2 separate regions of the Homo sapiens genome follow, and region 2 is linked to region 1. Evidence: fine-mapped expression QTL. A gene starts in region 1. The other region holds a variant in brackets. All regions are shown on one strand. Distances are from middle to middle. Region 1 holds the start of CYFIP2 (cytoplasmic FMR1 interacting protein 2). Region 2 overlaps CYFIP2 (cytoplasmic FMR1 interacting protein 2).

Evidence for each region. PIP is the estimated chance that this variant, and not a neighbour inherited with it, causes the effect.
Region 2: its variant is the best candidate, but not a certain one, in a credible set for the expression of CYFIP2 in unexposed skin (GTEx, PIP 0.53).

What each region holds. Positions count from the first base shown.
Region 1 is chr5:157,264,721-157,267,445 of GRCh38, reverse strand. It overlaps CYFIP2 (cytoplasmic FMR1 interacting protein 2), which reads right to left and starts at 1,323. Exons shown (of 31, transcript NM_001037333.3): 1 at 1,251-1,323. RefSeq lists an enhancer at 107-216 and a silencer at 897-1,416.
Region 2 is chr5:157,375,031-157,378,038 of GRCh38, reverse strand. The region is part of intron 26 of CYFIP2 (cytoplasmic FMR1 interacting protein 2); the gene reads right to left. All of the region lies in intron 1 of NIPAL4-DT (NIPAL4 divergent transcript), which reads left to right. Among named protein-coding and RNA genes, the nearest start is that of FNDC9, 31 kb to the right of the region's middle. The variant T/C (reference allele first, on the strand shown) is at 1,548.

The sequences.
Region 1 (2,725 bases):
TTTGCCCTCTAAGATCTCAGGGACCCAGGTTGCTGGCACAGCCTGTATCCAAGAGTAAGGTGAGACCCACTGCCCTAACTGGGACACAGACAGGAGGCAGGAAATGGGAACACAGGAACCGACAGTCTCCTGATTTGCCCCTCCTGCCAGCAGGCCTGCCTCCGTCTCCCTGCCCATGCTGAGGGCACAGGCACCCAGGAACTAGCAGAAAAAGATCCTTGTCCCATTCTTGGCCTAGCTGGAAGGACAGCTGATGGCTCATCAGCCCTGGTGAGTGTTTCCACTGTGCTGGGGAAAGTAGGCAAGCAAAGGTCAAAATCAGATTCCCTGTGCTGGGGAGGCACCTGGGCTGTCAGTGTCCTTTCCAGCCGGGTTCTGGATATAGAGGGCCATACTTATGTGGAACATGCTACCTGCCCCCATCCCCAAGCAGAGAGCACCTCCTCCTCTTCTTTTGCACATAGGTGGGCTGTTCTTTGGGGTGAGGGGTAGGGCTGACCTGAAAAGTAGACGCCACAACAGACAGGCAAGCATCTTCCTGGTTCTTCAGAGCTCAAGAAAAAAACCACCTTTTCCCCCAGGAGTCAGCCCACTCATCCCCTTCCCCCACTTCCACCGTGCCCGCAGCCAGCTTGGTGAGCGATGCTAGTGTAGGCCAGAAAGCTTCCAAGCGGGTCAGACCTGCTCCTCTCTCATCAAAGCCCTCCGCCCCCAAACATCGACGCTGCGCCCCTCGCCCCACCCATCACACGTTCTGTGTGCCCGAGGCGGCTGCCAGGCGGGCCCAGGCGGCTCTCGCTGGCCCTGGGGGAGGTGACGGTGGTCACGGCGGCAGAGGCAGGGGCCAGCGCTCTGCAGTACCTGGACTCGAGGATGTCGCCGCTGCCGGGCTCGCGGCCGCTGCAGGTGTCTCCGGTCCCTGAGATTAGCACCGCCTCCTCCCGGGCTGGCGGCTCCGGCCCAGGCCGCGCACCTGCTGCTGCGGCTCCCCCGCCGCCGCGCCGGAGCTCCGCGATGTGCCCGCGCCTCCCGGGCAGAGGGTCCGTGCCGCGGGACGCACGGTGGGTCCGAGGGGGAAAGGGGCCGCGTGGGGCCTGAGGCCGGGCCTCGGGCTAGCCCGGGCACAGCGCCGAGCGCCCCCCGCGGGCCGGGAGAGGGGGCGGCCCTTCGCGCATCCTCACGGCCTCATCCCCGTCCCCGGCGGCATCCTAGTCCCCGTGCCCGGCCCGAGGCCTGCGAGGGCCGCTTACCTGGCTCTGCGGCGGGTCCAGGGGAGGGGCCTGAGGCTACCGCAGGGCCCCGCGCCGGGGCGCAGGATGCTCTGCCCCGCTCCGCTGCGCCGCGCTCGGCCCCGCCCCGGCCCCGCTGCTCCGCCCGCCGCGGCTCCGCCCCCACCCAGCGCCCGCCCCTTCGCCGCAGCGGCTGTCACACAAAGGGCAGGAAATGGCTGCGGCGAGGGTCTCTCCACGCTCTCCGCTGTACCGCCGGCGCACCCAGGACCTGCCTCTCGGTTTCGGAGGACCGCTCAGCCCCCAGGCTTCCTGCCCTGGGGGCGGGAAAGGGAGGGAAGGCTTCTTCCACGGCCTCCATCACCGGGAACCACACCTGCAGCAACCCGAGGACGAGAGCTTCGGCCGCGTTCGGATCTTATTGGCCCCACATGATTTCCAAGTGCTCTTTTATCAACCCAGTCTTTATTGATTACCTATCCTGTTCCAAGTACCGTGCCAGGACTTGGGTGTGCACTGGTGTACAAAAGACAGGGTCCTGCCCCCTTGGAGTTTTATCACCTGCCAGGAGAAACAGGTGTAAATTAACCTAGCAAACGTCCAGTTACAGCCCAAAGTGCTCTGAGGAGAAGGAGCAGGGTGAAGTGACAGAAGATGCAACTGGGGCTAGGGGAAGGGGCCTTCCACCAATTGAGCTTGGTCGCTGATAGGGCTCCTTCGCTTAAGAATAAGTTCTTCCGCTCCCTTCCAGTTCCCTGGAGAAGAGTCCCTGAAGCTGCCACCTCTTTTACAGGGGCCTGCCTCAACTTCATTCTGGAAGAATTGCCTAACGGACAAATAGGTGGCAGGAAGCACTGAGAGGACAGGTACCTTTCTCTTCAAGGCTTATCTGCCGTGTCGGGCTCTTTAAAGAAGCAATTATCTGCCCAGCGGTGGCTCACACCTGTAATACCAAAACTTTGGGAGGCCGAGGAGAGAGGATTGCTTGAGCTCAGGAATTGGAGACCATCCTGGGCAACTCAACGAAACTTCATCTCTACTAAAAATTAAAAAAAAAAAAAAATAGATGGGTGTGGTGGCATCCACCTTTTGTCCCAGCTACTCAGGAGGCTGAGGTGGGAGGATTGCTTGAGCCTGGGAGATTGAGGCTACAGTGAGCTATGATCCTGCCGCCGCACTCCAGACTGGGTGACAGAGTGAGACTCTGTCTCAAAAAAAAAAAAAAAAGAATGAAAGAGAGAGACGGGGGGAGAGAGAGAGAGAGAAAGGAAGAAAGAAAAAGAAAGAGAGAGAAAGAAGAGAAGGAAAGAAAGAAGAGAAAGAAAGAGAGAAAAGAAAAAGAGAAAGAAACAATTCTCATTGAAATCCAGCCTGGTAGGCCTTCAGACCAGGCTGAAGTCAGGCTGCACCAAATTCTAACCTTGAGACACCTGAGCAGGTCACTTCACCACTCTGCTCCACAGAGGTCACCGTATCTGCAACACAGGGAATAACAG
Region 2 (3,008 bases), 110 kb before region 1:
TCTTCCAAGCCCCTCCAGCCCACAGTGCCTTTGCTTTTTAAAAACTTACCAGAGCTTTTATTCATTCAGGGCTTCCACTAAGCCATCTGCACATTGGGCTGTCTTATCTAGCCCAGGGTCCTGAAATCTGAGCTGCTGATGGAGGACCAGGGCAGTGACCCACATCTCATGTAAACATTGATTGAGAATCTTCTTGAGGGACAACCCATGTGCAGGACCTGCACGTTCTCTATATTTTTCTCATTGGCATGATATGAGAGGCCAGCAAGAATACAGAGAACATGTGTATAATAGGATCTAGATACCCAACAAGGTTGTACCAAATTCTGAAGACTTTCATTCTGACTTGAATAGAGCCTGAGCCAGAGATTGTCATTCTTTCATTTATATAGCAAATAATAGGCACAAGGCTTTCTGCAAGGTGCTGGAGTAGGTGAGGGAGACCAGATGCACAACCCTTACCAAGATGATGACAAAATAAGTCAAAACTAGAATGGGCAATTCTAGTAAGTGCTACAATTGGGGTATGCCTGGGGTCTATGGGGATGCAAAGAGGAGCAACCAATTCAGACTTTTGGGGAGGATGATAGGGAAGACTTTCTGAAGAAGGACGCTAAGTTGAACCAGGGGTGAGTGTTGGACAGCTAAGGGGGAACAGTACCTGCAAAGGCCCCAAAGCAAGAGGCCACAGTAGGGCAGGGCTGAGAGCCAAGGTAGACTGAAGCTTTCAGTGCTAGAGGAAAGTGATGTGAGACAGGAAGGAGGGGTGGGCAGGAGTGGTTTGGGAAGAATCTTCTAAGCCTCTCTTAGATTTCTAGACATTATCCTGATGGTTTTCATCAGGGAAATGGCCAAGCTGCAGTTTCACCTTCTGGTTGCAAGGGAGAAAGGATTGGGGAGAGCAAAGGGGGTGTTGGAAGAGTCCAAGCAGGAGAAAGCAGGGCCAGGAGTAGCGGCAAAGGAGATAGAAGGAAGTGAGCAGAGGCCAGAGACCTGATGACTGGACCTGAGGGCGGGAGTAAAAGGACCCCTGCCCAGGGCACCTGTATGACGTTGGTACCGTTTATGGAGTCAGAGAACAGCAAGGCTGCAGGCAGGAGGAAGCCAAGGTCAGATTCAGGCAAGGTAAATTTCTGATGTGTGTGGACACGGAAGAGAAGATGTCTAAAAGGCAACTAGATGTGAGGCCTAGGCCCTGCAGAGTCTGCAGAGTAGATCTGAGCTTGGAAGTCAGCATGGGATGGAGGCTGACCCCAGGGGAAAGGAACTGTGCAAGTGCAAGGTTTGCATAAGTGGGTGCTTCTCAGGGTGACCAAGACCCTTCCGGAGACTTCAGTTCCTCTGACTATATGAGACCCAAGAGAAAAACAGCACAAAGTGCTCCTTGAGTTCAAGGGAATACATAAATTCTGAACATTTCCATGTCTACTAGCATACAACCTAAACAGGGATAAAAAGACACCTTTCAAGTCAGAAATAGGGAAGATGCCACTTCTCTGCATTTGCTGCTACCTCTTTATTCCTTTCTTTAGGTCACCAAATATCTA[T/C]TGAGTGCTTGCTCTGTGATCTGGCAGACAACTCAAAGGCACAGAGATGAAGATGAAACACACCATGGAGCCAGGGAAGGGCCTGGATGCTGTGGGAAACACTACAACAGGTAGAGCTCTGTAAAAATGAGATTTCAATGAAGTTTACCATCTAGTGGAGAAGAGATCCAAGGACACCCGTGACTGAGAAATAAAACAGAATCAATTGGGTGCAATAGGAGAAGTTGCTGACAAAGGGCTTTGGAGACTGAGAAGAGAGAGAAACACCACCAAGTTCCTTGCAGAGAAAGGCATTTGATAAAATGTGTGTTGAATAAAAGGACCAGCGGTTTGTGGAGGATGAGGAAATGATGGCTGTGAGATGGGCCTGAGAGGAGGGGCAGGGTTTTGAACTGGGAGGAAAGGTGCCATCCCATTCAGGAGGAGGATGAAATCAGGGATAAAATGAGGTGGCTGATATGAAAGGAGTGGGGCATCCTTGGCTTGGGCTTGTGAGGAGTGTGGGCCACAGTGCTATGGGCAGTCAGGAGCCAGGCTTTCAGTTCTAACGGGGCTTAGAGAAAAGGCCGATTCAAGTCTCTTTGCTGATGGCAAGAGGAGGAAAGGGGGCTCTTGGTAACCGAGGACCTGCTTCTTAAGCGCTGGAGACTTCGCATTCATTACCTCACTTAACACTAAGAACTCTGTGAGGTAGCTCCTCAGTCCCAGCACTTTTCAGGCGTGGAAACTAAGGCTTAGAGAAGGAGTGTACCATCTTTTGGCTTCCCTGGGCCATACTGGAAGAAAAATTGTCGTGGGCCACAGATAAAAATAAAATACACTAACAACAGCTGATGAGCTAAAAAAAAAAAAAATCGCAAAAAAAAATCAACGTTTTAAGAAAATTTATGAATTTGGGTCGGGCTGCATTCAAAGCCGTCCTGGGCCATGGGTTGGATAAGCTAGGCTTAGAGAATATAACAGAGTCTCATAGCTATCCAGTATAGAGGCAAGACTTGAACCCAAGATTTCTGAATCCAAAGATACATGGTTTCCAGTGGAGACCATGGAAATCAACCTGAAATCAGGCTGAGAGAGCCTCATGCAACTCACCCTGCCCTTCCCCTTGGCCTCATTCTGTGTAAGAGTCTCCAGACTTAATGACACCAGTTCTTTGATAGGCATGGTGTCTTCCTTTGGACACAGGCAGAGTATAATAGAGCAATACTTCTTATTAAATGAAGAAATGGGTGATAAACCAGAGCTATGGCCTCTCAGGATTGCCTTGCTGCCAAAGGCCTGGTCTCATCTCTGAGTGGCCATTGGGCCTACCAGGCAATCATCTTCTTTAATATCAACCTCACTGTGTTCTACTTCATAAGTCTTATAGCACTAGATAGGACAAAGGCATGAGGATTCCTGGGTGCCTTTAACAAGTCTCAAGTTGGGAATGCTGATTTTAAAACTCCAAGTGGCCACTTA